Regions from separate parts of the Homo sapiens genome. Here region 2 is linked to region 1. The links come from fine-mapping of genetic effects on gene expression. A gene starts in region 1. The other region holds a variant in brackets. All regions are shown on one strand. Distances are between the middles of the regions. Region 1 holds the start of RAB5IF (RAB5 interacting factor). Region 2 overlaps TGIF2 (TGFB induced factor homeobox 2).

The links. PIP is the estimated chance that this variant, and not a neighbour inherited with it, causes the effect.
Region 2: its variant is the best candidate, but not a certain one, in a credible set for the expression of RAB5IF in B cells (Fairfax 2012, PIP 0.61).

Annotation. Positions count from the first base shown.
Region 1 is chr20:36,604,110-36,608,109 of GRCh38, forward strand. It overlaps RAB5IF (RAB5 interacting factor), which reads left to right and starts at 1,670. Exons shown (of 4, transcript NM_018840.5): 1 at 1,670-1,956; 2 at 3,606-3,709. The coding sequence starts at 1,843. It overlaps TGIF2-RAB5IF (TGIF2-RAB5IF readthrough), which reads left to right. Exons shown (of 5, transcript NM_001199535.2): 3 at 3,606-3,709. RefSeq lists enhancers at 544-593, 1,324-1,463, 2,815-4,000 and silencers at 585-984, 1,664-1,973.
Region 2 is chr20:36,583,366-36,587,365 of GRCh38, forward strand. All of the region lies in intron 2 of TGIF2 (TGFB induced factor homeobox 2), which reads left to right. All of the region lies in intron 2 of TGIF2-RAB5IF (TGIF2-RAB5IF readthrough), which reads left to right. Among named protein-coding and RNA genes, the nearest start is that of TGIF2-RAB5IF, 11 kb to the left of the region's middle. RefSeq lists an enhancer at 2,113-3,102. The variant T/TA (reference allele first, on the strand shown) is at 2,100.

The DNA of each region.
Region 1 (4,000 bases):
GAGGTTTTTTGTTTGTTTTTTGTTTTGTTTTTGAGACCAAGTCTTGCTCTGTTGCCCAGGCTGGAGTGCAATGGCGCGATCTTGGCTCACTGCAACCTCCACCTCCCAGGTTCAAACAATTCTCATGCCTCGAGCCTCCTGAGAAGCTGGGATTACAGGTCCCCACCACCACGCCCGGCTAATTTTTTTTGCATTTTTAGTAGAGACGGGCTTTCAACCATGTTGGCCAGGCTGGTCTCGAACTCCTGACCTCAAGTGATCCACCGACCTCGGCCTTCCAAAGTGCTGGGATTATGGGAGTGAGCCACTGCGCCTGGCCTCCCTAGGGAGGTTCTATTACTCCTGAAAAGTGAAGAATTACAGGTGAATGTTGATAGGTATGCAAAAGATACTCTGACCTGTTTAAAAAAAAAAAAGATACTCTCAGCTTTAAAGTTTAACGGTTAAGAGCACAGATTCTGGAGTCAGACACACCCAGGTACCAGATACATTACTTGTCTTTATAAATCCACTGTCCAGAGGCCGGGTGAGGTGGCTCACGCCTGTAATCCTAGCACTTTGGGAGGCCAAGATGGGCGGATTGCCTGAGCTCAGGAGTTCGAGACCAGCCTGGGCAACATAGTGAAACCCCCGTCTCTACTAAAATACAAAAAAAACTAGTGGAGCGTGGTAGTGGGCGCCTGTGATCCCAGCTACGTGGGAGGCTGAGGCACGAGAATCGCTTGAACCCGGGAGGTGGAGGTTGCAGTGAGCAGAGACCGTGCCGTCTCAAAAAAAAAAAAAAAAAAAAATCCACTGTCCAGAAGGGATGTGCCTTGGTCTCTGGACTTACCAGCACAGTGAGCCTGGCACCACCTGGAGGGCCACCGGAAGGAGCCCCATCCCCAGGGGTTCTGAGTCAGTAGGCGTGGAATGGGGGCCGAGAACCTGCGCCTCTACCCAGTTCCCAGGCGATACGGCCGCTGCTGATCCGGAAGCTCACTTTGTGAACCACTGACGCAGCACATGGTGAGGACGCTGTATGTGAACACTCAGATATCCTGATACCTAACCCAATCCTTGTATTTGCCGCCCAGGAGTCCCCGGTTGGGTCCACCTTGCTATACGGCCTCAGAATCTCATTTCCTCTTTTGGGGTCTCAGGGCTCTCGTGTGCCAAAAGAGGGTGCTGGGCAAGATGAAATGGTTAGTTATTACAGAAGAGTTAACATCTTCAACAAGGCCCTACAGAACTTGCAGGGTTAGGGGAGAAAATAAGCGGGCTAAATCCTGTGGGGCAGCTTGGAGCTACCCTGGAGCAAGGTCTGGGCTCAGCAGGCGAGTAGGTCGCAAGGAAAGGTAGAGCCGCTCCTGCCCCACTCGCTGCTCGAGGGGCAGCTGTGGCCGACTGGGCGACGCTGACGTCCAGCCTCGGTTTTCCCCTACCTCCTCGGTCTCCACAGCGCCTCCTGGCGCCCATGTCACCGTTCTACCAAGATTGTCCCTCCCCTCACACCTTACCGCGAGCCCGGCGGATGCTGACGTCATTTCCGCCACGAGTAGCGCGCTTGCGCCAAGGCGCCGGTCGCTGTTTCACTCGGATGGCTTCGCGGTCGCCGATTGGCTGCGTGAGCACGTCGGCGGGAGGGCGCGCGACACTGCACCGCCCCTCCCTTCGCGGCGCCTGCTCTGTAGAGCCGGCGGAACCGGGTAGCTTGGCCAGGTTGTGAGGAACCGCAGCGCGCCGCAGGACCGGGCCGCTGAGCCTGCAGCCGCCCCGCGCCGTGACCTGCGACCCTAGACCCCGACTCCCTTTGGCTCAGCCCGCGCGCCCCAGGCCCGGCCCGGGCGGCGCGACGGGAGGATGAGCGGCGGGCGGCGGAAGGAGGAGCCGCCTCAGCCGCAGCTGGCCAACGGGGCCCTCAAAGTCTCCGTCTGGAGTAAGGTGCTGCGGAGCGACGCGGCCTGGGAGGATAAGGTACGGTGGAGTCTGAACAGGGCGCGGGTGCGAGGAGTCGGCTGGGACTCGGGGAACGGAAGACTGGCGCGGGCCTGCCCTCGTCCTCGTTCCGGCACAATCGAGTAGGGCAGTGGGGCGGGTGGCCCAAGGGTGTCAGAGCAAACTTGGCGGGCACTGGGCGGACAGCTGGGCTTGGAGCTCCCCGAAGGGTGGCCTAAGGATGAAGCCCCCTAGTTATGCGGAATTGGCGAGGAGCGGGGAGAGGCGTTGTCATTCGCGGGCAGGGTTTGTGCCTGAACTGGGAAAGGGAGCTGAATTCGATTCGGCCTCCGCCTTTTATGTGCAGTAGGGTTTTGAGTAGGTTACTTGTTTCTTTCGAATTAAGTAGCACAAACATTAACAGTAACAGACTTCTGCTGAGAATGCTTTCTACGTGCCAGGTGCTCTGCAAGCGGAATCTCGTTTAACTCAGAATAACTCTGAAGTGGGGTACTGTGGTACATTAAAGCCTTTTGCACATAGTGAGGCTCGCTAATCTTGAGCTGCTGTTGCTTGTTGAATGTAAAGGACCGAATACTTTGATAAGCATGAGTCAAGAGGGGAGACTGAGACCACCCGCTGGGTGAGTGTGAGGTGTGGGGGTGGAGAAACGCCACCAGATATGTGCGAGAATTGGTTGGGACTTCAGAACGTTCTTACTCGTCCCATTCGGAGGATGCTTCGTAACTCTGCTCCATGATCTGGAAGGGGCCATCACAAACAGCTTGATTCCAGGTAGCTTGAAAAGCGTATTATATTTGCAGTCATTTCTTGGTTTTCTGGGCTGCCGAAGTGGATTTTCCTTCCTGAAGTTCCTGTAAAGGGGGATGGGAGGCACTTCCTGAAGGTGCCCTTGTTCTGCCCCCAGCCCTGCCCAGCTCTTGCAAAACCTGCAGTCTCTAATCTGCTGTGTCATTTCTTTCTTTTCTTGTATAAGGACTGGTTTCTGGAATCTAGGGCAGATCAGAAACCTGAGTCGTCTGTGTTCTTCCATTAAACTTAAATATAGTGGCACCTGCCTCCAGCATTTATGGTTCTAATCCGTATGTGCGGCCAGTAGCACAATTATTATCACAGTCATTTCATTACAGGCCATATTATATATGCACCTCTAGAATTTTGATTTAGAGCACAGATTCTGGAAGTGATCGCTTAATGATGTCTAAATGTATCTTTTTTTTTTTTTTTTTTTGAGACGGAGTTTCACTCTTGTTGCCCTGCAACCTCCACCTCCCAGGTTCAAGCAATTCTCTTGCCTCAGCCTCCCAAGTAGCTGGGATTAAAGGCGCCCGCCACAACACCCGGCTAATTTTTTGTATTTTTAGTAGAGACAGGGTTTCACCATGTTGGCCGGGCTGGTCTTGAACTCCTGACATCAGGTGATCCACCCGCCTCGGCCTCCCAAAGTGCTGGGATTACAGGCTTCAGCCACCACGCCCAGCCCCTAAATGTATCATTTCTACCACATTTTAGTATAAGTAAGAGGTGAAACAGGAAGCACATACTGTTGCCTTTGGGGGGAAACAAATTTCCTGGATATGTTTAGCAGAAAGGTTTAATATTCTCCCCTTTTGCTGTCTTGTGGCACCCACTCCAGATAATTCTTGCATTTTCTGTCTTTTCTACAGGATGAATTTTTAGATGTGATCTACTGGTTCCGACAGATCATTGCTGTGGTCCTGGGTGTCATTTGGGGAGTTTTGCCATTACGAGGGTTCTTGGGAATAGCAGGGTAAGTCTTGGGTATCTTATATTTTCATGGTATCATTTCTTTTTAAATAGAGGCTTTTTTTCCTGTTACAGGAAAGGCCATTGCTGCTCTGGAGCTGTGTGTGTGTGTGATGACTAAAGCAAAGAAGCAGCCCTACAGTGGCACTCCTGGGTCTGGTGCACCACTCCTCAGGAGCATCTCAGGTCAGGCAGGTTACCTTCCTGCCTTCCTGAAGGCTGGGCCAGTCCATTCATTCATGGGTCTAAAGTGACCTCATGCAAGAGGCTATGACTACTTGTTCGTGGCATGCAC
Region 2 (4,000 bases), 21 kb before region 1:
GAGACTTTCTTGAGCCCAGGAGTTCAAGGCTACAGTGAGCTATGATCATGCCACTGCCCTCCAGCCTAGGTGACAGAGCAAGACCCTATCTCTAAAAAGAAAAAAAAAAAAAAGGCTGGGCACTGTGGCTTATGCCTGTAATCCCAGCACTTTGGGAGGCCAAGGCGGGTGGATTACCTGAGGTAAGGAGTTGGAGACCTACCTGGCCAACTTGGTGAAACCTTGTCCTACTAAAAATAAAAAAAATTAGGCTGGGCGCAGTGGCTCATGCCTATAATCCCAGCACTTTGGGAGGTTGAGGCGGGTGGGTCACCTGAGGTCAGGAGTTTGAGGCCAGCCTGGCCAACATGGCGAAACCCCGTCTCTACTAAAAATACAAAAATTAACCAGGTGTGGTGCTGTGTGCCTGTAATCCCAGCTACTTGGGAGACTGAGGCAGGATAATTGCTTGAACCTGGGAAACGGAAGTTGGAATGAGCCGAGACTGAGCCACCGCACTCCAGCCGGGGCAACAGACTGAGACTCTGTCTCAAAAAAGAAAAGAAAAAAAAACTAGCTGGGCGTGGTTGCAGGTACCTGTAATCCCAGCTACTTAGGAGGCTGAGGCAAGAGAATTGCTTGAACTCGGGAGGCAGAGGTTGTAGTGAGTTGTGATTGCACCATTGCACTCCTGCCTGGGCAACAGAGCAAGAGTCCATCTCAAAAAAAAAGAAAAAAAAATTCAATGGCTTTTGCCAGCCTAATGACATCACCGGCCCGTGTCTACATCTTGAACCTCAACCCTGGTCCCCTACATTCCCACTACATTGATCCACCTCCCCAGACCATTTTCCTCCCACCCCTGACCAGGAGGCTCCCAGTCCCTAAAGGAGCTGTATGCTCTCACAGCAGATAGATGAGGTCACAGCACTGGGACACTAAACTGTAATTGCTTTTAGACTGCACCAAATTCTAGAGGTGTGGAGAGCACTGACCTAGTGTTCACAGTTACAGCCCTAGTGTAGCATAGTGCTTGGTATCTGGTAGGTAGGTGCTCAGTAAATAATGTTGAAGTGGCAGAAAAGGGCTATAAAGTGGTGGAAGGGTCAACAGGCAGGACCTCAGAAGTAAGGAAATGTAATGGCTCCTAATCATGAAAAATAGCCTAAAGCCTGGGAGCATCATTTTTTCCTGTATTTATTAATTAATTTTTTTTTTTTTTGAGACGGAGTCACTCTGTCGCCCAGGCTGGAGTGCAGTGGCGCAATCTCAGTTCACTGCAACTTCTGCTGCCCAGGTTCAAGCAATTCTCCTGCCCCAGCCTCCCGAGTAGCTGGGATTACAGGCACCTGCCACCAGGCTGAGCTAATTTTTGTAGTTTTAGTAAAGACAGGGTTTCACCATTTTGGCCAGGCTGGTCTCGAACTCCCGACCTCAGGTGGTCTCACTTCAGCCTCCCAAAGTGCTGGGATTACAGGCGTGAGCCACTGCTCCCGGCCTCCTGTATTTAATTTTTTAAATTTCATTTTCCATTAAGGACATTTAAGAATATCTATAAAAGCTGAACGCAGGCTGGGCACAGTGGCTCACACCTATAATTCCAGCACTTTGGGAGGCCGAGGCAAACGGATCACCTGGGGTTGGAAGTTTGGGACCAGCCTGACCAACACGGAGAAACCCCATCTCTACTAAAAAATAGACAATTAGCTGGGCATGGTGGCGCATGCTTGTACTCCCAGCTACTCAGGAGGCTGAGGCAGGAGAATCACTTTTGAACCTAGGAGGTGGAGATTGCCGTGAGCGAGATCCTGCCATTGCACTCCAGCCTGGGCAACAAGAGTGAAACTCCATCTCAAAAAAAAAGAGAAAAAAGCTAGGCACAGTGTCTCACGCCTGTAATCCCAACACTTTGGGAGGCTGAAGCGGGTGTATCACTTGAGGCCAGGAGTTGTAGACCAGTCTGACCAATGTGGTGAAACCCCGTCTCTACTAAAAATAGTCCCAGCTATTCGGGAGGCTGAAGCAGGAGAATCACTTGAACCCGGGGGTGGTGGAGGTTGCAGGGAGCCAAGATCATGCCACTGCACTCCAGCCTGGTCTACAGAACGGGACTCTGTCTT[T/TA]AAAAAAAAAAAAAAAAAAAAAAACTCCACAAAAGTAAGAGAATATAATAATCAACCACCAGCACCAGTCACTCGGCTTGAACAAGTATCAACATTTTGCCAAGCTTGTTTTATCTCTCCCTGGGGACATCTCTTTTGATTGTCTCCTTTAACCCTCCCAGGAGCGATTCATTAGCAAGTCAATGACTCAACTAACTGGTTTGCTGGTACTTGCCTGGGGCTAGGCAGTTGGGAGGGTTAGGGAAAAAAGTAGTTTGTAAAGGATTTTCACAGGTCCCTTCGACATCCTCTAAGCCCAATTTATTGGTTGGACTAGATCTGTGGCTACCTGGCAGGGTTCTGGGCCCCAATCCTTTACTGTAACAATGGTTGGGGATATACCACGTGCCAGGCCCGGGACTCTGTGCTGGGTATACAGTGGTAGAATGGGTACCTTCCCATTACTTCCTGGCTGTCAGGACTCCTTTCATATGCAGTTTCCTGAGGGAAGCCTTCCCAAAGCCCATACCGGGGCAGGGGCAGCAGTCCCCCTGGCGAGGGCTGTTGGGTGAGAAAGGAACCTGGTGCAGAGGCTGTAGTGGTCAGCTGTGGGGGAGGAGTGTCCTGGCCTAGCCCCCAGGGCAGCCAGGGATGTAGGAGCTGCTCTCCTCTGGCTCCAAAGCTAGCTGCCCTCTGATTCCTCCCACAGGCAACTTCTATTTTTCCCCATCTCAAGGCCTTTCATCTGTGTGTATGTTTTTTGAACTTCTGTGTAAGCTTTTTGGCTTAAATAAAGGGCTTGGCCTGCAAGGACAAGTAACCAGTAGGCTAAACCATTGGTTCCTAAGCCTGGGCGGCCAGACTTTCTGGGTAGCTGGTCTGAAAACACATTGCCAACTCCACCCCTCACCCCCACTAGATCAATAAAGCAGAGGGGGAAATCACTAACAGTTTTTAAAAATCTCTCCCAGGCTGGGTGTGGTTGCTCTGCCTGTAATCCCAGCACTTTGGGAGGCCAAAGCGGGCAGATCACTTGAGGTCAGGAGTTTGAGACCAGCCTGGCCAACACGGTGAAACCCTGTCTCTATTAAAAATACAAAAATTACTTGGGCATGTTGTCGTGTGCCTGTAATCCCAGGTACTTGGGAGGCTGAGGCAGGAGAACTGCTTGAACCCGAGAGGCGGAGGTTGCAGTGAACTGAGATCGCACCATTGCACTCCAGCCTGGGCAAAGAAGTGAGACTCCATTTCCCCCCCCCCAAAAAAAAAAATCTCCCCTAAGGTGATTCTAATACAGAGAGCTGCCTTCAAGAGCACCTGGATATGGTAGTCTCAGTGTGAATGGTGGTACCATGATGTTTGGGAAAGGCGCCTCAGTGCCTTTGCTTCCTTGACACAAAAATGAGAGGGTTTCTGCCTGCATTCATTAGCTGCTGCTCCCAGCATCACAGCCTTTGTCAGCCTCCTGGTGTTCCTCCCACCCCCATTTGCCACAGTGATTCCTCCCTTGTTCCTCAGCAGCCTCTCAGATAGAGCCCTGTTTTATGGTAGAGACCGGCTTTCCGGTTCCCAGCCTGTGTTTTGCCATATACATCACAGAGTTCACTTTGACCTTCTTCCTACCATCTCCCCAAGGACCTTGAGTGGAGACAAGTCACAGGTTCTTTTCCTGACTTAGGCACAGGCTGGGCAGCTGGAAGGGCTGCAGAAGGGGCACTGGCAGCCACTCAGTCCCCCCGCGTTGCCTTGCCCAGCCCCTCAGCTGTGCATTTTTCTGGGCTAAGAAGACAAAACAGACAGATGCTAGGCTGCCAAGTGATCTGGACAGGACAGTCTTGTGGGGGAGTGTGTGGAGGGGTGTTTTTCTGTTCTTGAACCCTCAGCCAAAGTGGGAAGTGCCTTTAGGGGCTAGGTGCCCACAC